Linked DNA regions of Homo sapiens: regions 1, 2, 3 and 5 are each linked to region 4. Evidence: fine-mapped expression QTL. A gene starts in region 4. Each other region holds a variant in brackets. All regions are shown on one strand. Distances are between the middles of the regions.

Region 1 (5,097 bases), 73 kb after region 4:
TAATCCCAGCACTTTGGGAGGCTGAGGCAGGAGGATCACTTGAGGTCAGGAGTTCGAGACCAGCCTGGGCAACATGGTGAAACCTTGTCTCTACTAAAAAAATACAAAAATTAGCCAGGCATGGTGGCGCACACCTGTAATCCCAGCTACTCAGGAGACTGAGGCAGGGGAATCGCTTGGGCCCAGAAGACGGAGATCACACCACTGCACTCCAGCTTGGGCAACAGAGTGGGACCCTGTCTCAAAATGACTAGATCGCATACAAGTTGGTGTAAATGCTGAGCCAGGTAAGCAAACATCTTGCTTGCCACAGGGGTTTGGAGAAGGGAGAGAGCATCAAGGTGTCAACGAAAAGAGTCAGACTCTATGAGCGACCATGGCCTGTGACACAGCCCTCAGGAGACCCTGAGAACACGTGCCCAAGGTGATCAGGGCACAGTTTGGTTTTATACATTTTTGGGAGACACGAGACATCAATCAATACATTTAAGATGTACATTGGTTTGGTTCAGAAAGGCAGGACAGCTCAAAGCAGGGGCTTCCAGGCTATAGGTAAATTTTAAATTTTTCCAGTTGATAATTAATTGAGTTTATCTGAAGACCTGGGATCAATAGAAAGGGAATGTTTAGGTTAAGATAAAGGGTTGTGGAGACCAAGTTTTATTGTGCAGAGGAAGTTCTCAGGGCAGACTTCAGAGGGAGTAGGTTATAAAATGTTTCTTATCAGACTTATAAGGGTGCCTGGCTCTTTGTTGATTATCTCCTGAGTCCGGAAAGAAAAAGAAAAAAATGGGGGGAAGGGGATTCTCTATAGAATGTGGCCTTTTCCCACAAGAGACAAACTTGTGGAGCAATTTCAAGATATGGCAGGGAAATATATTTGGGGTTAAAATATTTTTATTTCCTCCCTTATTATGTGATGTTATGCTAGAGTCAGGTTAGAAAGCAGACCACGCTATATAGGGTTAAAATTAAAACCTCCTCCGATAAGACTTTATGGTTTGTAGGGCATGACTCCCTAGGCTCCTTAGGTAGGAATTTGGGCAAGATAAAAAAAAAAAAAATCAGAGTTTAGTCCTCAAAGGACTGGAATAATCAGGGAAGACTTCATGGAGGAAGCAGGTCTTGAGAAGAATCTTAAGAATCTGGGTAAGTGGAATAGAAGGCATCCCAGGCCAGGGTAACAGCATGAGCAAAGGAATAAAGGTAGGGAGGAGAACAGTGCTGAAAGCCCACATACATCTTGGTACTGCTTTCTCCATATCACAGATGAAGAAACTGAGGCTCAGAAAAGTAGAATAATGTTCCCCTGGCTGCACTACTAGTGTAGAAATCAGAAAAGCTAGGCTTCAAATTCCATCTATCTGACTCCAAAGCTCATCACTTTCCCAAGATCCACACTGCATTCTATGGCACAGCTCTGAGGGGGTGTGAGGGGAGGTGATGGGGTAGGGCTGGATTCGGTTGACACCAGAGATGATTGTATCTCTTCACAACTCCACATCCAGTGATGTCATGTTGGTAGCTTGTCATCAGCCATGGTGGGAGTATTTACACCAAGGAAATTGGCAACCACTACAAATCAAAGTTTTGTTAGTTTGGTTGATTGGCTGGTTGGGTTTTCTTCCCCCATGAATAGCTAGTTACTATAAAGTTAGCAGCACACCACTGGCTGGATAAGAACCATGGAAACCAGGTAAAGCAGTGTCTAAAGGCAGGAGAAGACCTGTGCTTAAAGCACTGGAAATCAAGGAGCCCATGAAGGAGAAGATGCCAGGGCGGTGGGTCTTAGGATGAAGGCTCTGACACTGGAATGCAGTCCACATGGAGTGTGGAGTCAAGCCCCAGAGGCCATGTAGGAGGGGCTGAGTACTAGGCCTGGTTTGGGGAGGGGCACTGGGGCAGTTGAGCATCCAGGAAGAACATGGCTGATAACCCAGAGCACGTGGCAGGCAGCCTTTTGAGAGAAAGAAAAGAGTGTCTGTGAGCTCCATGAGACTTCAGACCTTGCCTCATTCATCTGTGTCCCTGGTGCCTAAAACCATGCATGGTACAAAGGAGGCTCTATGCAATTGCACCAAAAAAAAAAAAAAAAAAAAAGAGAGAGAGAGAGAGGCTGAGGCTGTAGAGGAGTTTATAGAACAATTGAATCAATGATTAAGCAGACAAGTGATACTGATGAAGCTGAGATGCCATGCCTGGGAGAGCCATACATATCTAGTAGATTTACCAGGTTAGAGGACTTGACTCCGTTTTTTTTTTTTTTTTTCCAGTAGAGATAGGGTTTCGCTATGTCACCCAGGCTGGTCCCGAACTCCTGAGCTCAAGCCTGGAGTTCAGTGCCTGCCTCGGCTCCCCAAAGTTCTGGGATTAGAGGCATGAGCCACCGTGCCCAGCCAGAGGACTTGACTCTAATTGTTTTCGTTCTCAACCAGCTAGGTGATCCTGAACAAACCATTATCCCTTTCTTTTATTTATTTAATTATTTTTTTTTTTTTGAGGCACAGTCTTGCTCTATCACCAGGTTGGAGTGCAGTGGTGAGATCTTGGTCGGCTCACTGCAACCTCCGCCTCCCGGGTTCAAGTGATTCCCCTGCCTCAGCCTCCTGAGTAGCTGGGACTACAGGCACACGCCACCATATCCAGCTAAT[T/TTA]TATATATATATATTTTTAGTAGAGACGGGGTTTCACCATCTTGGCCAAGATGGTCTCGATCTCCTGACCTCGTGATCCGCCCGCCTTGGCCTCCCAAAGTGCTGGGATTACAGACATGAGCCACCACACACGGCCGCCATTATCCCTTTCTTGGCCAGCCTCTGAATCTGTGCGATGAATAATTTGTACTGTCTTTGGTTTTGTATAATTCTGGATGAAACAAATTTCTAAAAATTTCCAAATAAATTGCTGCAGGCTCAGGATTCATTCCAATGCTCAGCAGAAAGGCAGCAGGGCTTGGCTGAAACAGCCTGGACTTGGACTCTCGAGGCTTGAGTCAGAGGACCGGCCCCTCGTGGGCTGGGCGTGTGTGTGGCTTAGGAGGAAATCCCTTCCTCTCTGGGCTTTTTTCTCTCCATCTGTAAAATGGAGCGGCTCCCCAGGAAGCCAGTCAAGGACGAAGTTACGCATGTTCTTTCCCCAGGAAGGCTCCACTTCCCAAGAATGCTTGGCACCCCTTGTCGTCCCAGCAGATGGCAAAGAGGTGAGAGGAGCCTTTGTCTTGGACCGGCCCCAGAGGCTCCGTCATCCCTCTTTGGTTGTTTCTGGTGCTTAATTGCCTCTGGTTTTAAAACTCCTTTCCCTGAAGCCACATTAGTGGGTAATCAATAGGGAAAAACCACAAGTGAACTGCACTCAAAAAAGTAAAATCCCTTTGGTTCCCTCTTGAGAGGAAGAAAAACATTCAATAAGCACTTAATGGAACCCGATTACTAGCAAATAATTCCTCAGAACAACGCTTTGAGGTAGGTTTTATTATCCCCACTTTACAGAAGAGGAAATAATAACACCTATTACGTATTAAGCATACACTGCATGCAAAGCACTGTTCTAATTACTTGCCATGGAATGTTGCGCTTATTCCATGGAACAATCCTGAAGACAGGGACTATCATTAATCCTGCTTTATATATTAGAAAACAGAGGAACGAGTGTGGTAGTGCAGGCCTGTGATCCCAACACTTTGGGATGCTAAGGTGGGAGGATCACTTGAGGCCAGGAGTTTGAGACCAGCCTGGGCAACATGGTGAAACCCCATCTCTACTAAAAAATACAAAAAATTAGCCGGACATGGTGGCACACGCCTGTGGTCCCAGCTACTTGGGAGGCTGAGGTGGGAGGATGGCTTGAGCCCAGGAGGTTGAGGCTGCAGTGAGCCTTGATGGTGCCACTGCCCTCCAGCCTGGGCAAAAAGTGAGATCCTGTTCCCCTGCCCCCCGCCAAAAAAAAAAAAGAAAGAAAGAAAAGAGAAAACAGAGACTTTGAGAACCTATTATTTTTGCCTCAGGTCGTAGAGCCTGTGTCAGAGACTCAGTGCAAACCCCGATTTGATGATTCCAGAGTGCAGCCCTAACTGCTGTGCTATGTTTTCTCATTCATTCATTCATCCATCTATTAAATATTTAGCAAGGGCTAACTATAAGGGCTTTGTGAAAGATGCTGAGATATAAGGTCAGTGAAAAATAGATATGATCCCTCCTCATGTCTGGCAGAGAAGACAAATACTGAGTAATTTACCCATTAATTAATTAAAATTTGCAACTATAATATGTTCTGCAGAGCCTATAATAGGGGAACTGACTTGGTCAGGGCAGTGGGAGACAACTGCCCTGTGTAAGAGTTGATTGAGCTCAGATCAGAAAAATGAATGGGCATTATCAAGGGGGAAGGACAAGGAAGCTTATTTTGTGTGTCTGGGAGGACAGGGCAGGGGTAGAGTTTGAGAAGTGGACTGTGGCCAACCACATAGGGTCTCACAGGCCACATGAAGGAGTTTGGACTTTATTCTAAGACCATGCAAAGTCTTGAAGAATTTTAAGTAGGGGGTGACAGGACCTAATTTGTCAGATGTGCATTTTGCAAATATTAGCTACATGAAAGGGCAATGTGGAGAGTGAATTAGAGAAGACAAGCGTGGATGAGGAAAGACCTGGTGGGGGCTTAAAGATAATGGGGATTGGAAGAGGGTGGTAGTGGGGTGGAGGTAGGGAAAAATAGTGGATTTGAGAAATAAGTAAGGAGTACAATTGGCAGGGCGCATGATGGATCAACCTGTACGCAGGAGTGTGATGTTTTTCTTCTGACACCAAATTGTTTGGGGTTTTTCCCACACTAACCACTAATTCTCCAGCTTGCCAACACCAACTGGGTATCCCGCAATTCAATTCAATTCTGAAATGTCAGTCACGAGGCCCAGGCCCCCAGGCTGCCACATTTCTGTTTGATTTGGCTACAAATTCGGGGGTGCCCATGACACCCCGAGATTCAATTTGCCAGAATGACTCACAGAACTCAGGAAAGCACTTTACTTACTATTAGTTGTTTATTATGTCAACCTTAAATAATGAGATTCAGAAAATAAGACTAAGTATAGAGTTTCTTTGA
Region 2 (5,105 bases), 29 kb before region 4:
CAAGTTACCCTCCTGCCTCAGCCTCCCAAAGTGCTGGGATTACAAGTGTGAGCCACCACACCAGGTCAGAAGTTAGTGCAATATTAATTAGCATTCTAATTTAACCATAAGGCCTAAATTGTAACATTACATGTTTCTATTCTATTGTATTGAATTCAAATCTAGTTTTCTGCCTGTAATCCTAGCACTTTGCAAGGCTGAGGTGGGAATATTGTGTGAGGCCAGGAGCCTGGGCAATATAGCAAGACCTCATTTCTAGTGGAAAAAAAAATCTAATTTTCATTTAGTCATAAAATGTAGACTAAATATTGTTGAGACTTACCTAATGCAGGCCTTACTCTACTGTAGTCACCATTTATTTCCTAACTGAAACAAGACTGGGAAGGAGGTATACATAAGCAAAACCGAAGAAATGCCCCAACCCTACTCTGCTTTCACTCTGCCCACTCTAGGTCTTTTCTAAAACAATTATATTTTTTGAATAGTAATACAAGTACATGATATCAAATTTTTTTTTTTTTTTTTTTTTTTTTTTTTTTTGAGACGGAGTCTCGCTCTGTCACCCAGGCTGGAGTGCAGTGGCGGGATCTCGGCTCACTGCAAGCTCCGCCTCCCGGGTTCACGCCATTCTCCTGCCTCAGCCTCCCAAGTAGCTGGGACTACAGGCGCCCGCCACTACGCCCGGCTAATTTTTTGTATTTTTAGTAGAGACGGGGTTTCACCGTTTTAGCCGGGATGGTCTCGATCTCCTGACCTCGTGATCCGCCCGCCTCGGCCTCCCAAAGTGCTGGGATTACAGGCGTGAGCCACCGCGCCCGGCCGATATCAAATTTTTTAAATACAGGAAAATGCAACTCAGTTTCCCTTCAGAGAGTCTATCGTTACACAAATTTTTATCTTCATCATCAAGCAAATACAAACATAAATTTACAGGCACACTCCTGTATACCCACAGAATGCACCATTTTAATATTTCACAATAAAATGCCTCAGTTTTACTACCCAAGCTGTAGAGAATGTTCATCTCTCTTAACACATTTTTTCAGCTAATGATTTTATAAAGTAAAATTTTTACATTTATTTATTTCAATCCCAAAACATAATACAATGTTCTTTAAAAGATGTGTGAGATGTCTGGAGATATATTCCAAATAAAACTAACAAAACTTTGAAAAATCTGCTTCAATATCAACAAAAGGAATGTACGTGTTATTACACAGGAAGCAACTGTGTGTTATATTAATTATTTAGTAACCAGGAAGAAATGCTTAAGAATTTTATATCCTAAAAATTTTGTTAATTGCATGAATATGGCCAGGCCAGTGGCTCACGCCTGTAATCACAGCACTTTGGGAGGCTGAGGCGGGCGGATCATGAGGTCAGCAGTTCAAGACCAGCCTGACCAACATGGTGAAACCCCGTCTCAACTAAAAATATAAACATTAGCCAGGCGTGGTGGTGGGTGCCTGTAGTCCCAGCTACTCAGGAGGCTGAGGCAGGAGAATTGCTTGAACCCGGGAGGCAGAGGTTGCTGTGAACCAAGATCGCGCCATTGTACTCCAGCCTGGGCGACAGAGCAAGACTCCATCTAAAAAAAAAAAAAAAAATTGCACGACTAGCCCAGGCATGGTGGATCACACCTGTAATCCCAGCACTGTGGGAATCCAAGGTGGGAGGATTGCGTGAGCCCACGAATTTGAGACCAGCCTGGGCAACATAGTGAAACCTTGTCTCTATAAAAAGTTTCTTAAAAATTAGCCAGGCATAGTGGTGTGCACCTGTAGTCCCCACTACTCAGGAGCCTAAGGCAGAAGGATCACTAGAGCCCAGGAGATCAAGGCTGCAGTGAGCTATGATTATGCTACTGCACTCCAGTCTGGGCAACAAAGCAACATGGTCTCAAAAAAAAAAAAAATTGCTGGATTCAAGAATACCTCCATTTTAATTTTTAAGTAATCTAAATTGTTCTCTGTAGTGGCTTTCACCAATTTCTATTCTCATGGCTATGGTGTAAGTACCTATTTTCCCATAATCTTACCAAGCTAACATTTCATAGTTTAATATGCACGTCTCTTACTATGAGAATGGTTGAGAATATTTTCATATATTTGAAGGCCATCTGTGGCCAGGCATGGTGGCTCACGCCTGTAATCCCAGTACTTTGGGAGGCCAAGGTGGGTGGATCACCTGAGGTCAGGAGTTCAAGACCAGCTTGGCCAACATGGTGAAACCCCGTCTCTACTAAAAATACAAAAAAATTAGCCAGGTGTGGTGGCTCTCTCCTGTAATCCCAGCTACTCACAAGGCTGAGGCAGGAGAATCACTTGAACCTGAGAACTGGAGGTTGCAGTGAGCCGAGATTGCACCATTGCACTCCAGCCTGGGCGACAGCGCAAGACTCCATCTCAAAAAAATAAATAATAAAAAGTAAAGGCCATCTATATTGCCTTTCTGTACACAGTGTTCATACCATTTCCC[C/T]TTTTCTATTATATTTAGGTCTTTCTTAAACTGATAAATCCCTGAAGCAAAGTTGTTCTTTGCCTATAATGAGATATTACAGATATTTTTCCCAGTCTATTTGTTTGTTGACTTTGTTATGATGAAATATAACCAAATTTATCCTTTCCTTTTTTGAGGCAGGCTTGCTGTGTTGCTCAGGCTGGAGTACAGTGGCGGGATCATAGCTCACTGCAACTTCAAACTCCTGGAGTCAAGCGATCCTCTCACCTCAGCCTTCCAAATAGCTAGGAATACAGGTGCATGCCACCATACCCGGCTAATCTGTTTTTTTTTTAATTTTTTGTAGAGACGAGGTCTTATTGTTGCCCAAGCTGGCCTTGAACTCATGGCCTCAAGTGATCCACCACCTTGGCTTCCCAAAGTCCTGGGATTACAAGTGTGAGCCACTGTGACTGGCCTTATACTTTTCTTAACCCATTTATGCCTGAGGTTGCAATTTTTTAAATTTTTGCAATCAGACCTTGGCAATGACCTTGAACAGTAGGACACGAATAACTCCCAGATGCTTAGCATTCCAATAATGGAATACTAGGCATATTTGTCCATGTCTTATGGCTTCTAAGTTTTGGGTTAAGCTTAGAAAAGTTTTTCTTATTCAAATATTATTTTTAAGATAATTCCACCATTGTTCATCCTAATAATTTTATGATTTCATTTTTTACATTTAAAGCTTTTATTCATCTGGAATCTATCTGGGGTAAGGAATGACAATGGGGATCCAGTTATTTAAATTCTGGGTTGTTATTCAGTTGTCCCAACACCACTACTGAGTAACTGAAGCTCTTTTTAGATGATTTTTTAGAAGTTAGACTCAGAAGTAGAGATGACTAGTGAGCTCAGAATTAGTGAAACCAACACCAAAATTAGGAATTTAGGGGTCCTAAAACACATATAACATTAAAAGCACAGATCCTGAAGTCCAACATCTATCACATACAAAGCATATTAACTAGTACTGTTGTTAGACTTGGAAGACCTAAGGATGGATTATCTCTAATTCAGTTAAAATAACTATGTACTATACAATAGGTATTAATAATAAGCATTTATATGGCACTTTTACAGTTTGTATAATGTGAGTTCACTTACTTTGTCTTCATAACTACTCTTTAAGAAGATGGGTAGAGATTTTAATTTCCATTTATTGCTGAGGAAAATAATTCAGTGGTGGTACCTTGTCCCTTTACTTATAGGAATTGGTAGTGCCAAACTCAAACCCAGATCTCATATTTCCAAATATTAGCACTCTGCTTTTATATCCTGCACCAAGTACTTTTATGCAAAAATTAATGAGACTTCCTACTCACAAGGAGGTTGAAACGATTTTTCAATTAAATATTCAGACCAATCACATACTTAATTCTAAGCATGAAAGGAGTACACAGAAGTAGAAAACATCCTTGGCTTTAAGGAAACTTCAAAGGTCTACAGCAGTTTAAACAAATAAGGCTTGGGAGACTGGAAAATAAACCTGAAGGTCAGGAACCATCTTATCTACTCTCTCCTTGTCATACAGTATTTACAGCTGGTATAACTAGAATGTAGTGTTAGGTCAGTAAATATTTGTTGGTTGTCTAAATGTACTGATCGAAACTTCTAGACAGGGTGAGATATGAAATAATATCAGATCCCACTTATTTTTCCCAGGGGCTAAACTTTTGTCTGTGACCAAAGACTCAGCCAAATCATCAAACAGTTCTTAGACAATGTAAGTCTACACCTACTGGGCTACACCTACTGACTAAATGTATTTCACAGAAAAATAAAAATGTTGAACTACATTTCATTTCAAAACTGCCAAAAGGTTATAAAACAATTTCCAGAACTGAATCTAGTCCAACTGCTACAAAATACAACTATCATTCACTCTTGCTTTACTCTGAATTAAACACATCTTCTGCTTCTACAATAAATAATTGTTCATAATATTTCTCATCAGTTGTGCTTTCTTTGTGTTGTTTCCTTCAGATATCTTGTCAACATATATTTTCTGCAGGTCTTTTATTTTTTAATACTAACAATCACTTATCTGCCACATATGATAATTTTTTTAAAACTTCTGAAATATTTTAGCAAATACTAAGGGAGAACAAAACATGAATATGAAAATAGAAGTACAAAAATAAACTCAGTTTACAAAGTTCAATTTGTATCCTGCCACAGATAACTTCACTTCAGAGTCTGCACGCCCTATTCTCCCATCTATCCAGTGACAAGATATTGGCATTGGAGCCTCAAGGACTGCAACTTTTGTTGGCAAAAGCCTTGCATGGGTCAAGATAATTTTTAAGCCTTTGATAAAGAAAGCCCAAAGAGACCAGGCTTAAAATTTTAGTGGATGGTTGCGTGTTAGATATGTTAGAGTCCTAAACTCAAATAAAAAGGCAAGTTGACAATAAACTAGTCAATGCAAAGAGCTTACAAAAGCATAAGCCCAGAAATTACATGCAATGCCTAGTCTATAAAATACCAAGAAGGCGGCTGGGTGCGGTGGCTCAAGCCTGCAATCCCAGCACTTTGGGAGGCCAAGATGGGCGGATCACGAGGTCAGGAGTTCGGGACCAGCCTGGCCAACATAGTGAAAC
Region 3 (5,105 bases), 88 kb before region 4:
TGCAGAGGAGGTCCCTGCTTGGACACAGGTCCCCAGGGGGCCACAGGGCTCTGACACCCACCCTCCCCTGTGCTGCCCTCCAGCCTCCCTGGAGGTAGAGCTGAAAGGGTGAAGCTGAAGAGGCAGCTGTAGGTCACTGGCTATGTGGATTCTGATGCTCTGTGCCTTTGCCCAGGCCACTGTCCCTGCTTGCAGAGAGCCCTTTCCCTCTCTTCAGCCTGGAAGATACTCTCAGGATAGTGGTCACCTCCTCCCGGAAGCCTTGCCTGATTTCCTGGGGATGGAGTTAGTTTCTCTGGCTCCCTCTCCCCACTCATTATCTTAGACCCACTTTCCATCCCATTTTGCTGCCTGTCTTCTCTCCTGCGATAGGACAGGTGGGATGGGAGCATACAGTGGCTACCCGGAGCTTCAGCTCACTGTGTGGGTGGGGAGTGGGAGGATGTGTCTGTGCGCTGGTGTCTGTGATCCCTTATCTATTGGTCTGCCTGGGAGAGCTGTAGTCAGTTTAAGGTGGATGGAAGAGAGACCTGGTATGAATTAGGCATGACCACAGACAATTTTTGCCCAGCTTGTCATGTCTCATTGACCATCAGTGACATGGGTCCACCTCATGTTCATTTTGAAGAGTGTTGAGCAGTTTAGGGTAATAATATTATTAATAACTATTATTAGTATAATAATTAATATAATAGCAATAATTACCTTTTCCAAAAAGCACTTATTTATGTGCTAGACTCTGAGCTGTTCGTTTTACATATATGATATTACTAGGATATTGATTTGGCTTAAAAAAACAGATAGAATTAACAGTGACTTAAACAGAAAGGAAATTTATTTCTCTTACCTGAAATGCAAGTGACATCTGGGGAGCTGGCCTCTCTGCTCCACGAGGGCATCCAAAAGCCCAGGCTCCTCATTTGTGGCTTCCCCATGCCCTCATCTATGTCATTGACAGGACTGAAGACAGCCTGCCATGACCTCATCTGTGTTCCAGCCAGTGGCAAGTGGGGGAAGGGAGAGGGTAGGTGCTCTGGTTACTATGTTGTATAATAAGTTACCCTAAAACTTGGCAGCCTCAAACAACCATTGTATGTCACTCATGATGTTGTGGGTCAGGACCAGGAAGCGCTCACCTCAGCAGTTCTCGCTTTGAGTCTCACATGCGGATACCATCAGAGGCTGGCAGATCTGCAGTTATCTAAATGATCCACCGGGCTGATGCCTGAGGAGTCTCACTCCCATGCTGGTGCCGGCTGTTGAGTTCAGCCGGGGCTGTTGACTGTCGTACCTACAAATGGGCTCTCCAGCACGATATTCTTGGGGTAGTTGGACTTACATTGTAGCTGGCTTCCCGCTTATTTCCAGAGAATTGGATGAAGATGGCATTGCTATTTAGTTTGCTAGGGCTGCTGTAGCAGGACGAGTCGCAGACAAAACTCCTGAGACACCGGATTAAAGAAGGAAGAGGTTTTTTATTCGGCCGGGAGCATCAGCAGACTCGCATCTTAAGAGCCGAGCTCCCCGAAAAAGAAATTCCTAGCCCTTTGAAGGGCTTACAACTCTAAGGGGTCTACGTGAAAGAGTCATAATAGATCAAGTAAGTGTGAGGAATGTGACTGTGGGCTACCTACATCAGCTAACACTACAAAAAGTTTTACAGTGCTTTCTCACACAATGTCTGGAATTTACAGATAACACCAGTAGTTTTGGTCAGGGGTTAATATTATTATCATTTTAACCACCAGGGCCAGGTGGTGGCGCCAAGGTCGTCTAGCTATTTATCTTTCTTCTGTTTCTTTCCAACTTTTTGCTTTCTCCCTTTTCTCCTGTCTTATAAACTAGGGAAAAGGGGAGGTTGGGGAGAAACTGGGAAGGACAACAGGAGAAGTGGTGGTCTCGTACCATATTCCCCCCCTTTGAGAATTTTCACTTTTTAGTGGGAGTTCTCACTCTCATCCTCACTTTCTGAGTCTCTTTGCGAGATAGAGCGATAGTGATTCATATAATACACGTGTGCTGAAGTTTTTTGATGAACCAAAGTAGCAACAAAACATTTTATCATTTGAAAAAGCAAGGGTAATACACAGGGGAGCAGCAAGCAAGTTCCTATTACTAGCACTACACCTACAATGAGGGTTTTTAATCCTCCTGTAGCTGGAAACCATTTTCCAAAGAAAGACTCAGGATCAAACTCGTGCCAAACCTGTACAGACACATGTGCCACCTTTGTCATGTCCCTGACTATGTTTTCAACCACCTGTCCTTGATCATCTATTTGTAGGCAGCA[A/C]CTGGTTAAGTTAAATTTTTCACAAACTCCTCCTTCAGCTGCTAGCAAGTAGTCCAAGGCCAGCCTATTCTGAGAGATAGCATTCCTCATTTGGGTTTCCTGCCAAGCTAAAACAGTCAAAGTTTCATTAGTAATTATTTCTAAGATGGCCTGCAACCATATGATCTGATTGAGCATGTAGATGGGGATTCAGTATCCCCATGAGCTGTCTTGTGCCCATGCGGCAGGCCCATAATACTGTATGATCCTTTCAGGGGGCCACTCATTATCTTTCCAGTTTCCTATAACTATGCCTCTCTTGGGAGGCATAGACAGGGAAACCTAGGAGCTCACCCGTTTTTATGGGTAATAAGAAAAAGGACGGCTTAATAGTGCCAATAACACAACTGCCTGCCCATTTATTAGGTAACCGAATGTAGGCTCCGTGCCCACATATCCAGTATAGTCCAGCGGGAGCTGCCCAGTCCTGATGAGATTCTGGATGAGCCCAGGCAGTTTTTAATTTAGAAAATTTACTAAATGGGTTCTTTTCAGTGTGGTTTAGGCCCCACCAAGTAATTGTCTTTGTTGTGCTGTTGTACAACTTCTGTCCTATACAATTAAGCTTTCTTACAGGGATGATAAAGACTTTCCCTTCTCTAGCTATACAGTATTGTCCAATAATTGAGGTTTTTAGGACCCAGAAGTTGCTAGCTTGGGCCTTCTGAACTGGAATTACATCAGGAGCTGGATCAGTAGGCACCAACTCTCGGGCTTCCCAAGGCCATCGGTCTCCGATAGTGGTTCCCCCGCATACATAACAAGAAGTAACATTAAGGGAATGAGCTACATTTTCTGCTGATTGGATAAACAAATTTTTTGTCTTTTTCGGAAGTTCTGGTGCTGGCAGATTCAGCTCCTCATAAAAGGTTTGAAATACTGGCTTGGGAGAGCGCTTGTGGACCTCCCCTCTAATTAAAATGGCAACTTGGGGGTTTAACCCCGTCCCATCGATCCCCAGGGTTACACGTTCTCCCTTTTTCTAATGGGGATCTAGGGGATTGGTAATTATTAGTTCTAGTGGGTTACAGTGACCGGCAGCACAGGAAGGGTTGGCTTCCCCCTTCTGAAGATGAACCGGGTCTTTTTTGTTCTTTTTCCAAGTAGCCCAAATAACACATGGCCAAAAGGCACAATTTTCACAATCCCCTGACTCATGACAAACATATTTATTTTCTACTCTGTAGCTCCTTTCCCAGTTAAGAGAACCACATTCTGTTCCTAGTTTGTTACTATTAATGGCTGCACAAGCATCAAATCTTAAAATTATTTGTTTGGGGATTCCTTTTTCTTCTGTTCTAGTTATTATTTTACTTGTGTCACCTAGGAAAAGGCTAGTTCTTAATCTTGTTTCAAAAATGGTGGTTGCAGGGGGCTCAGATGGGTTATAACACACATCAGGTGGGTCATTTCCCAGGCTACATACCTTGTACTGAGTGGCATTATACAAACAAGTTTCTTTTAACATTCCCATATATTCATAATAACTATAGAACAGAAAGATTGTTTTAATTTGCTGTCCTACCTCAGTGACCTGATGAATACACTGGGAACAGTCCCCAGTTTGAGTAAGGTCAGTTGAAGCCCTTACTGTGTAAGTCCAGAATTTAAGAAAAATGAATCCCACGATGAGCTTCCTCATGCTTCGGCCGTGCGTGGACCAGTCAGCTTCTGGGTGTGACTGGAGCAGGGCTTGTCGTCTTCCTCAGGGTCACTCTGCAAGGGTCGTCTGGGCTTGGTCTTGCCTCCCAGGTTTCAGGTGCTGCAGGTTTTACACGGCTGTGGTGGATCCAGGCTGGGATTCCCTCTACCTTCACAGCGGTGGGAGTGGTCAGGACGACAGACTACGGTCTTTCCACCGTGGGCACAAAGAAGTTACGTTCCAGTCCTTGATCCACACTCGATTACCTGGGGAGAAAGGGTGAACTGGGGAGAATAAGCTAACAGGGCATCTCTCATTTACCCAGGCTGAGATTGTTTGTGTAATTTTTCCTAAAGCCTGTAGTTGTCGCTGTAACTCAATTTCACCTAACTCTCGGGGAGTGCCTGGAAGTCCCTGCAATATGGGAGGGGGCCTATGATACAATATTTCATAAGGGGAATATCCTGTTCTTTTAGAAGGGGTACATCTAATTTTAAATAATACCATAGGGAGAGCCTGTATCCATTTTAATCCTGTTTCCTGACATACTTTCCCTAAGCTATTTTTGATAGTCCAATTCATCGACTCCACCTTTCTGGAACTCTGAGGCCGGTAGGCAGCATGCAGTTTCCATGTGTTCCCCAATACCTTTGCCCTCTTCTGTACCAAGTCAGCCACAAATGCTGGCCCATTATCTGAGCCGATCCGTAAGGGCAGTCCAAATCTAGGAATAGGATCTCGAAGAAGCACACAGGTTACTTCACGAGCTTTCTCAGTTTGTGCTGGATAAGCCTCCACCCACCAGAGTAGGTACACACAAGAACTAGTAAATACTTGTTACCTCCACACTTTGGCATCTCTGTGAAGTCCACCTGGACATCTTCAAAGGGGGCTGCTCCATAAGCTTGTATGACGGGCGGAACAGCTGGACCTTGCTTCGCATTATGCTTTGGGCAGGTAACACACCGCTGCGTCACCGTTTTGGCAAGGGCTGACAAATGCAAGATGTAGAAATACCGGACTAACAACTTTTCAAGTGACTCCTGGCCTAGATGGGTGGTTTTATGCACAGCCAGCACAACTGCGGCTCCTAGCAGCTGTGGCACAGCTTCTCTCCCATCTGGTAACCGAATC
Region 4 (5,105 bases):
CCTTCCTTCTGGTTACTCCCCCGTGTGCAGTGGCATTTTCGCCACCACCACCCTGGGTGGCCTTCCCTTGACCTCATCTCCAAAGACCTTCCCCTCCACTCCATTTCAGCCGCACACTCCCACGGGCAGAACCTCTTCCTGACCCCAGGAATTCAGGTATTGCACGCCCTCCTCATAAGCTCCCACCCTTCCGGCCCAGTGACTCCCATCACGCTGGCACGTGTTCCTCAGCAGGCCTCCACTGTCTCCCTGTCTTACAGCCCCCTTTGGCCTCACCTCTCCCTCTCCCCCTACCTAGCTTGAACTGCAACCTTCTGCACCTCAATCACTCTTCTTCAGCTCTTCAAAGCCACCTTTCGCTTTTCTGAACCCAAACTCTGTAGGGGTCCAACAGCCTTCTTCTGGGTAGACCCCGCACTAGAGAAATGCAAAGCACACAGCCTAAGAGATTGGGGCCTCCGGGTCAGCGGCCCCCCACCTCAGCTGGGCCTTCAACACTGCCATAATCCCTCTGTCCTAGCCCACAGCGCCCCAAGGGAAGGGGAAGCTGGGCGGAGCGCAGTGCACCCACCTAACCCACCCCAATCCTTCCATTCCCTCCGCCTCCTCCAGGGCTTTGAGCCGCATTTCCTGCTCTTCTCGAGTAGGGGTAACCTCTCCCACTGTCAAAACTAAACTAGCTCAAGTCTTTCTCACCTGCAAAATAAACTCTCGAGTGCATCTCTCTCCAGCTACTGCCCCATGTCTTCTCCCCTTCGTGACCAGCTGTCTACACTTCCTGCCTCCATTTCCCCACTTTCTTACTCCCTGGCTCCTGCCCCCACGACACAACTGTTCCCCACAGGGCCACAGGCGGGCATCACTCAGTGTTGACAGGCTGCCCCTCCCTGTGACATAGCCCCCTGCTAGTACGCTCCTATCTCAGTCCCCTCCTCCCATGACCTGAGGCTGGAGCTCCCCCAGGATCTCTCCCAGGCCCTCTGCTCGCCATCAAAGGCGGATGCCTCACAAGCTTACGACTCCAGACAGGCTCACCCAACTGCCTCCTCCACCCAACGCTGCAGCCCACTCAAGGTCCACGTAGTCCAAGCTGCATTCCTTCCTCGCACTCCCTTGCCCTGTGTCCCCTCTTAGCAAATGGCAGCCTCGGCGATCCTGCCCCGAGACAGGCCTGCGCCCAGCGTGGAGATGAACATCAGTATTTGCTGAACGTGTAAACGAATCCTTGACCTTCCCTCATGCTCCACAGCCGGTGAGGATTCCTGTCCATTTTACTGCCTCCTACGTCCCTCGAGTCCTCCCCTCTGCTTCTTTGTTCACCGCGGCCAGCTGCCTCCCCAGACCCGCAACCCCGGCTGGGCCGGGAACCTGCACCGCGGCGCTCGTGCCCCGCTCTGCGACCCCTGCTCCGTGACGGCCGCACTGCACCGGGGTACCGCGGCCCAGCACAGGCGCTGGTCACTAGTACACGAACTAGCTAGGACTACAGGTGCACACCACCACACCTGGCTAATTTTTTATTTTTTGTAGAGATAATGTCTTACTAAGTTACCCAGGCTGGTCTTCTGGGCTCAAGCCATCCTCCTGCCTCGGGCTCCCAAAGTGCAGACATTACAGGCATGACCCACCGTGCACAGCGTCAGCTTTATTTTTTTAATGCTGACTTACTGCAGAAGGCCCAAGGGCCAGTGCAGTTTTCATACTGCTGTTGTAGTGGCGAACGGAGCCACGAGGGAAGGGAGCGCCGCCGGCAGCTGCCGGGACACCAGGATACCACGCGGCCAGCACCGAAACGCTAGGCTCGCGCTCACAACCGCAATCTACACTGAGTAGCCGCGCGCCGAACGGCGTGACTAAGCCCCGCCCACACGGCGCTCCTGGCGGCCAATGGAAATGGCTTACGAGACGCCTTCTCCACGCGCTATACTTATACGGACCAATGGGTGCGCCCTGTGGGGAGTGCCGCCCCCTGTCCACGAGCCTCCTCTTCTCGCCAGCCAATGGAAGCGGTCTGCCTAGCCCTCGCGGGGGCAAGGCGGCGACCGAGGCGCGTGGGTCTGGGAAGGCGCGCGGATTTGGCCCCTCTTCTCACATCAGCGGGTCCAGGCCCAACCGACAGACTATGGGGGCTCCGGCAACCAGGCGCTGCGTGGAGTGGCTGCTGGGCCTCTACTTCCTCAGCCACATCCCCATCACCCTGTTCATGGACCTGCAGGCGGTGCTGCCGCGCGAGCTCTACCCAGTCGAGGTGAGGGGCGCCCCTCTTATCCCGGCCCGCTGAGGCTCTCCCGGCGCTGCGTCCACAGGGCCTTCACCTCCTCCGCGCTCGCGCACTCTGGGTTCCAGTTGCCTCTCTCGGGTCCTGCCCATGCCTCCCCCGCTCCTAACCCAACTTTAGTTCGGTGTTTTCCTCGGGCTTTGTCTCTATCCCAGCCCCTTCTCCCAAGCGGCGGGGGCGAACGCTTTGTTTCCTTTAAAGTCACTTCTTCCCTGGGTTTAAGGTTTCCCGCGATTCCACCTCTGGCCGGTTGTCAGTGTCTGAGGGAAGTAGTCTGGATGAAGTGGTGTCCAAAGTCACATGTTAGGTTTGCTTTAAGCTTCTGGTTTTTTGTTTGTTTGTTTGGAAGGGCTTTAAAATACCAGTCTGATCCCAAAGAAAAAATCCGAGTAGAAATAGACCTGTCTGAAGGTTTAGCACCTTGGTTGGTGCAGCTGGGGCGTTCACAGATCGTCACTGCTTCGAGATCAGGTTCCAGCAACTTCCAGAGCTCAGGAGTAAATTGCCATCTTTTCAGATTGGCTCTTCAATATTGGGTTCGAGTAACAATGATCTCCTGAGTAAAAATAAAGGTGAAAATCCCGATTTCCTGGTTGTTGGAGAGCATTCTTTCAACCCCAAACTCTGCTTTAATGCTTTGTTTTTTTCTTCAAAGCTATAGTTTTAGTTTCCCGGTTCGTTGAGGTTTTTTTCTCGTATCTGGACCCTGTGACCTTCTTCCATGGAATTCCTGTCCTCAGTTTTGTTTCTCCATCTTATCTATAACTGTAGGCAGGACTGACTTGTCTACCCGAAGATTTTATTTTGCGTCTGTTTTTCCTTAAATGCTTTTTATCTGCCGAGGAGGGGTTCTTTACCTGAGGGTCATGAACTCCCAAAAATGGGTGCAAGTGTGTGTGCCTTTTGTTTCCTGCAAGGAGAATATAGCTTCCATCGACTTTTCAAGGGGCCTAACTCTCCCAAAAAGGCCACGGCTCAAGAATGTTCTACCACTCCCATAAGTCACTCTTTTTTGTTTGCTTCTAGAACCAAACACAACTGGAAGACCTCTGACCTCCTTTTGCATGGGAAAAGCGTAGGTAGCGTGTAGCAAGTTGCAGTCTGGGGACTTGGTTCTTCCAAGAACTGGAGGTGACTTGGGCAGGTCAGGGCTCTATATCCTCCTCAACTGTTGAGAGAGTTGAGTTAAATTATAAGCTCAAACATATACAGGGTGGGTTAGTTTTCATATTGCTGTTGTAGTTACCACAAATGTAGTGATTTAACAGATTTATTTGTTTACAGTTCTGGAGGCCAGAAGTTCACAATGAAATCTTACAGTGCTCAAATCAAGGCAGGGCTCACTCCTTCTGAGGGCTCCAGGGGAGAATCTGGTTCTTGCCTCTTCCATTTTCTGGTGGCTGCCAATGTTCCTTGGCTTGTGTTCACGTCACTTCAATCTCTGCTTCGGGTCATCACATTGCCTCCCTTTCTGTAGTCAGAGTTCCCTCTGCTTCGCTTTTATAAAGACACTTGTCATACATTCAGGGCCCACCAGATAACCCAGAAAATCTCCCATTTCAAAATCCTTAATTACATCTGCAAAGTCCCTTTTGCCAAATAAAGTAATAGTCACAGGTTCCAGGGATTAGGATGTGGTTATCTTTGGGGGCCATTATTCAGCCTACTACAGGGCCAGAGAGTACAGACTCTTCCCAAAGACCGAAGAGGTCATCGCAGCTCTGCAGTAACCATTAATTGCCCTGAAGAAAGGAAAATCTACTACAGTGTTGGCCTATCTGTGGTTTTTGAAACCTGTGTGGCCAGCAATACTCAGACAGGCTGCCTGTTTACAATCTCTGGTGTTATAGGACCTTTTAATACTTGGTAATTAGCCTGCTACTCCATGTAGCCATTCCAGACTTCACAGCTGTTGTCTTCTTTATCCTTCCTGGATGTGCCATTCTCACAAGCCCGTCTTGCTCACCCCTAACAAAATACACTTAAAAGGTGCTCAGCATCATATCATAAAGATCCCATTTAAATGTTTACATTTGATAAAATTTTCTCAGTCTTTTTTTTAGAAACAGGGTCCTTTGTCACCCAGGCTTGGCGTGCTGTGATGCAGTCATGGCTTACCACAGCCTTGAACCTGAGCACAAGAGATCCTCCCACCTGTCTCCTGAGTAGCTAGGACTATAGGTGCACACCACCACACCTGGCTAATTTTTTATTTTTTGTAGAGATGATGTCTTACTGTGTTACCCAGGCTGGTCTTCTGGGCTCAAGCCATCCTCCTGCCTCGGGCTCCCAAAGTGCTGAGATTACAGGTGTGACCCACCGTGCCCAGCGTCAGCTTTATTTTTTTAATGCTGACTTACTGCAGAAGGCCCAAGGGCCAGTGCAGGCAGCATCTGGCCAGAACCTGTGTGTGTGTGTGTGTGTGTGTGTGTGTGTGTGTGTGTGTGTTTGTGTGAGATTTAGGCATTAGCACGGGCATCCTGGGTGTGTGTGTATCTGTGTGTGTGATGATGTTTGAAGGCATTAGCTCGGTGGCATCCTGGCATGGAAGGTCTGTGCCTCCATTCTTGTTGCTTTGGTGTAGGAAATGCTGATTTTGTTGCTTCTCTATGGGGCAAATAATAATAAACGCCTTGAGTTATTCTCATATTCTCTTTGAAAAATGCCAAAATTTAACATCTGTCATTTTCTTCCTGAAATAGAAGGAATGTTTCCCTAGAGTTAAAAAACCTGTAGGAGATCACCTAGTGGTTGGGCTGAAACATGCACAATAAATTTTTTTTCTTGGATTGCACCAAATCACTGCTTGGAAAAACTCATTTTTTTA
Region 5 (5,105 bases), 22 kb before region 4:
GGAGGCAGAGGTTGCAGTGAGCTGAGATTGCGCCATTGCACTCCAGCCTGGGCAACAGAGTGAGACTCCATCTACAAACAAACAAACAAACAAACAAAAACCAATCTGTGGCCTATACCATACAAATTGCTCTTAATCAGAGTATTCTTTGTAGTGTTTGCAAAGAATTCTTGTGCCACTGGAAAACAAGTTTAAAGGTAATCGCACCTTTCGAACTCCCCAAAAGAATAGGTTAATGCTTAGTGATGAATATTCCATCAAAATATATTTATTGAGCATCTCCCATTTGTCACCACTGAATTTGCAGAAGTAGAATTTAAAAAGTAAAGGTTTTAATAACTGAAATGTCCTATATTTCAAGTCCTATCCTCTTGGTTTCTCTCTCTCTCTTTAATTAATTAATTAATTTTTTCTTTTTTAAAAAAATAGAGATGGGGTCTTGCTATGTCACCCAGGCTGGTCTTGAACACCTGGCCTCAAACAGTCCTCCTGCCTCAGCCTCCCAAATTGCTGGGATTACAGGCATGAGCCACTACACCTGTCCTTGTTCCTCTCAACACACTTGAATTGATCAGACTTCAGCATTCAAACTGTCAAAATCAATTTACAAAATTCAAAGAATTCGTCAACAGTAGCACACTTCTCCCCAAAGATGCTCTTATACAATAAGCTCCCCCATGACCAGATGTACAGGCACAATGATTCCCATAATTTCTGAGGCAGCATTCACATCACATCTGCAAAGAACAAACAGTAGCTCTTGAATCCGAGAGAGCTAAAAAGTGAATGCAGCTGCTTGGTTTCCAACTAGCAAGAACTCAGAAGCTGAAATAATCCAAATGACTGGTATAGTTAAACAGGGTAACAAATGCAATGGAAACTTTGAGCCATACATTTTCCAGACCTTGATAGGAACCTGAGAAATAACCTCTCTGCTTAGAGAGCCCTCAGAAACCCCTGCTTTCATTTTATGTTTCATGGGGGTTAATTTTTCTTTCTACCACTACACAGATCTCTTATTGCAGAGCAAAAGAGCCAGGGCAATCACCAGCTTCAGGGAGAATTTAAAAGGATAAAAATTAAACTCTGCTACTGGATGATTCTCTTTATAATACTGAAGCCACAATACATTACTAAATAGCACAAATAAAGCATACTCTGATATTCTGCATTCCTTTCACTCCACCCACCCATCACCTCCACCAAAAAAAAAAAAAAAATTAAAAACAGGTTGAGCCACACACAGTATATTTGACTTGAAAGTTTCGATGACACAGCAGCTTACTCTTGCAAATTACTGGCAAATTTAACAGTGACTTAAAATACAGTTATAGGAAAAATAGACTAATCTAAGGGTAGAAAGGCAGGGAGGCAGAAAAACCCAAGCACCTTTTTAGAAAGACAACAAATATATTCAGGTACAAGATCTGCATCAGAAACAGTTTTCTTTCTTTTTCTTTGGTAAATGTAAAGACTTATCCTGAAGAGATTTTCTCAATCCCTGGCCCAGCTTCCACCCATGTTTCTGGAGTAAGCAGTGTCCAATATTATCCTGACAGACAAAACATAGAGACAAACCAAAAATATTCCAATAGTATATTCTTCCCTGCCTAGTGACACTTAAACAGATGATGAGCAAGCGATAATTCTACATATATGCATGCAAAAAGGTGCTAATAATAGCGTAAATGTGTCCAATAAGAGGGACACTAATGTAAAAAGAAAAGCTGGCTAGTATTTTATATGGGAAGAACATATAGGATAAAGGTCCTTTCTGATGGTGTGCTGGGCAACTTTCGTACATAACATTTTAAAATGGAGAAAAAGGGGAAAGGGAAAAGGGGAAGAATACATTTATGAAGTTTTAAAGTAACATTAAAAAGCATAAAATAGGCCAGACGCGGTGGCTCACCCTATAATCTCAGCACCTTGGGAGGCCGAGGTGGGCAGATCACCTGAGGTCAGGAGTTCAAGACCAGCCTGACCAACATGGTGAAACTCTGTCTCTACAAAAATACAAAAATTAACCGAGCATGATGGCAGGTGCCTGTAATCCTAGCTACTCAGGAGGCTGAGGCACAAGAATTGCTGGAACCCCAGAGGCGGAGGTTGCAGTGAGCCGAGATCGTGCCATTGCACTCCAGTTTGGGGACAGAGCAAGACTCCGTCTCAAAAAAAACATAAAATCAAAGTACGTATACAGTCATATCTACCACCTAAACAGCACCACTTTAAGATTCTTTTTTAAAGATAATATACATTGTGTTTAGTTGTTTTATGTGTCAGGCTTTCATGATACAAAGTAAGTTGTAAATGTAAGACTGTCCCACCACTAGAAATGAAAAAAACAATCAGAGCAAAATCCAGGCTAGACTTGATTGGTTTTAGAAAAGTGTGT[GTA/G]TATATATATATATACATATATATATATACACACACATACATATATATACACACACACATATATATACACACACACATATATAAAATATATATGTATATAATCCCAGCTACTTAGGAGGCTGAGGCAGGAGAATTGCTTGGCCCCAGGGGGCAGAGGTTGCAGTGAGGCAAGATGTCGCCACTGCACTCCAGCCTGGGCGACAAAGCGAGACTCCCTCTCAAAAAATAAATAAATAAATAAATAAAAAGAACCATTAGTGCACGTAGTGGGGAGAAACCAACATACATAATGTCTCATCTTCCCAGGAGCACACTGGAAAAGGTATTCCAATGTAAACTACATGAAAAAAAATGCTAAAAACAATGATTAAATGTCAGCTTTTGTTTAAGGGGTCAAGCTATCAGAAACATCTGCAGCTCTTTGTCCAGTTGTTTGCTTTTTACAGTTATTGTGAAGTACGAAGACAAGGCTAAAATAAGCACTAACCGTATCAGAAAAAATGGTGCTATACATTCAAAGGAAAAGATTGAAAAATTCTAAACACAAGGTATTCTATATGTATTAAAATGTAATTTATAGTATTAATCTAGAAAAGATTAAAAGTCTCAATATAAGTAATGTTACCAGAAAACAAAGGTAAACCATTTGAAAATAATCTCATATTTCCTGAAATCAATTTATAAAGCTGACTAAACCACAAATTTCTGCATTAAAACCAAATATTGCACATTAAATTGTTTGTCTTACATCTCCATATTCAATGATAAAATGTTCTTTGGAGTCATTGAGGAAAGAAAAACATTGTTCTACTGTTATCTTCTCTAACTAGAAGTCAGAAGAAAATTAAGCCTTCCAAATGCTCAGTTGTGTTTTGTTTTTAAAGGACAATTTCCTTCTTAAATTTATAATAGCATACAACCTACAAAACTGGGCTAAGCAGCTGATTATTTCTTTGATGGGGGAAAATCAGGACACTTTTTTTTTTTTTTTTGATACAGGTTATTGCTCTCTTGCCCAGGCTGGTGTACAGTGGTACAATTACAGCTAACTGCAGCCTTGACCTTCCGGGCTCAAGCAATCCTCCCACCTCAGCCTCACGAGTAGCTGGAATTACAGGCACACATGGCCTTGGCTGGCTACTTTTTACATTTTTGTAGAGACAAGGTTTCATTATGTTGCCCAGGATGATCTAGAACTCCTGAGCTCAAGTGATCCTCCCTCCTCAGCCTCCCAAAGTCCTGGGATTACAGGCATTAGCCCCGGATACTTCTTAAAAAACAAAAACTGGAGGCAAACTATAATGAAAAATTGTTTCTAAAACAAAACATATATTGTTTTAAATATACATACATATATATATATATATGGTATCATTATGGTACACAAAAGTTTGCTGCAAGTTATTTTTGCTACATATGAACTGAAAGAATTAGAAACACTACTGATGCCAAGTGCTGACTTCCACATTACTATACATCACGAAAACTTAATATAACACTACTGCTGCTGAGGCTTCTTCCCTTCTCCCCTCCCAAATGAACTGCCAGGAAAAGCATTCCCTTACCCAGTGCTCAGCATCTATTTATAACTTTCTTACCCCCCAAAAAAAAAAGATTAAAAGTCTCAATATAAGTAATGTTTGCAGAAAACAAAGGTAAACAGGCCCTTATTTTACTACTATGAAAACAAACTTACCTGTGCAGAAAATCCTTATTTCATATCATAATTCCTACAACTGAATAATTCTAGAAAGGGCAAGGATAGCAGAATGACTCTAAGAGTATATGGTTGATTATTGTTTAATCTCTCTCTCTCTCTCTTTTTTTTTTTTTTTGAGACTGAGTCTCACTCTATCGCCTAGGCTGGAGTGCAGTAACTCACTGCAACCTCCACCTCCTGGGTTCAAGGGACTCTTGTGCCTCAGCCTCCTGAGTAGCTGGGATTACAGGCGCCCACCACTATGCCCAGCTAATTTTTGTATTTTTAGTAGAGAAGACATTTCACCAAGTTGGCCAGGCTGGTCTCGAACTCCTGACCTCAACTGATCCGCCTGCCTCGGCCTCCCAAAGTGCTGGTATTACAGGTGTGAGCCACCTGCCCGGCCTTGTTTAATCTCTTAATAGACTCATGTTGTAACTATATTTGGCACCAAGATTTAGGTATTAAACAATGCTGACAAAAATTGTTCCTCCCTCCCATTTTGTTGTTGTCATTATTTTTTTTTAAAGGAAACTCAATCTTTGGCTAAGTGGAGATGAGACATTATGCTGACTGTGTTATATTATGAATGCACTAAAATAAACATGCAAATGAAGCAGTACACTATTTCCGAAAGCAGTCCAAGTGGAGTGAGAGCATTTCCATACAAACCTGGCTTTCAAAACTGGGCTGTCAAAAGAACAGTTAAATGTAACACAAAGTGGGCCGGGCGCGGTGGCTGACGCCTGTAATCCCAGCACTTTGGGAGGCCGAGGCAGGCAGATCACGAGGCCAGGAAATCGAGACCATCCTGACTAACACGGTGAAAACCCATCTCTACTAAAAATACAAAAAATTAGCCAGGCGCGGTGGCAGGCGCCTGTAGTCCCAGCTACTCAGGAGGCTGAGGCAGGAGAATGGTGTGAACCCGGGAGGCAGAGCTTGCAGTGAGCCGAGATCACGCCTGGGCGACAGAGCGAGACTCTGTCTCAAAATAAATAAATAA

Direction of the effects. Alleles are on the strand shown, and positions count from the first base shown. SD is a standard deviation of normalised expression in the study named. Not every link is listed here.
In carriers of allele A in region 3, the expression in pancreas of the gene that starts at base 2,083 in region 4 tends to be lower than with C alone (small effect, 0.18 SD a copy in GTEx).

Evidence for each region. PIP is the estimated chance that this variant, and not a neighbour inherited with it, causes the effect.
Region 1: its variant is the best candidate, but not a certain one, in a credible set for the expression of TMEM97 in sigmoid colon (GTEx, PIP 0.83).
Region 2: its variant is the best candidate, but not a certain one, in a credible set for the expression of TMEM97 in skeletal muscle (GTEx, PIP 0.58).
Region 3: its variant is the best candidate, but not a certain one, in a credible set for the expression of TMEM97 in pancreas (GTEx, PIP 0.72).
Region 5: its variant is the best candidate, but not a certain one, in a credible set for the expression of TMEM97 in activated naive CD4 T cells (Schmiedel 2018, PIP 0.67).

Annotation. Positions count from the first base shown.
Region 1 is chr17:28,389,629-28,394,725 of GRCh38, forward strand. All of the region lies in intron 7 of SARM1 (sterile alpha and TIR motif containing 1), which reads left to right. It overlaps SLC46A1 (solute carrier family 46 member 1), which reads right to left. Exons shown (of 5, transcript NM_080669.6): 5 at 5,014-5,097. Among named protein-coding and RNA genes, the nearest start is that of SLC46A1, 14 kb to the right of the region's middle. The variant T/TTA (reference allele first, on the strand shown) is at 2,652.
Region 2 is chr17:28,287,921-28,293,025 of GRCh38, forward strand. It overlaps the pseudogene KRT18P55. Among named protein-coding and RNA genes, the nearest start is that of TMEM97, 29 kb to the right of the region's middle. The variant C/T (reference allele first, on the strand shown) is at 2,479.
Region 3 is chr17:28,229,106-28,234,210 of GRCh38, forward strand. No RefSeq gene overlaps it. Among named protein-coding and RNA genes, the nearest start is that of TMEM97, 88 kb to the right of the region's middle. The variant A/C (reference allele first, on the strand shown) is at 2,291.
Region 4 is chr17:28,317,118-28,322,222 of GRCh38, forward strand. It overlaps TMEM97 (transmembrane protein 97), which reads left to right and starts at 2,083. Exons shown (of 3, transcript NM_014573.3): 1 at 2,083-2,248. The coding sequence starts at 2,123. RefSeq lists enhancers at 362-1,187, 1,407-1,666, 2,147-2,206.
Region 5 is chr17:28,295,137-28,300,241 of GRCh38, forward strand. It overlaps the pseudogene KRT18P55. Among named protein-coding and RNA genes, the nearest start is that of TMEM97, 22 kb to the right of the region's middle. The variant GTA/G (reference allele first, on the strand shown) is at 2,399.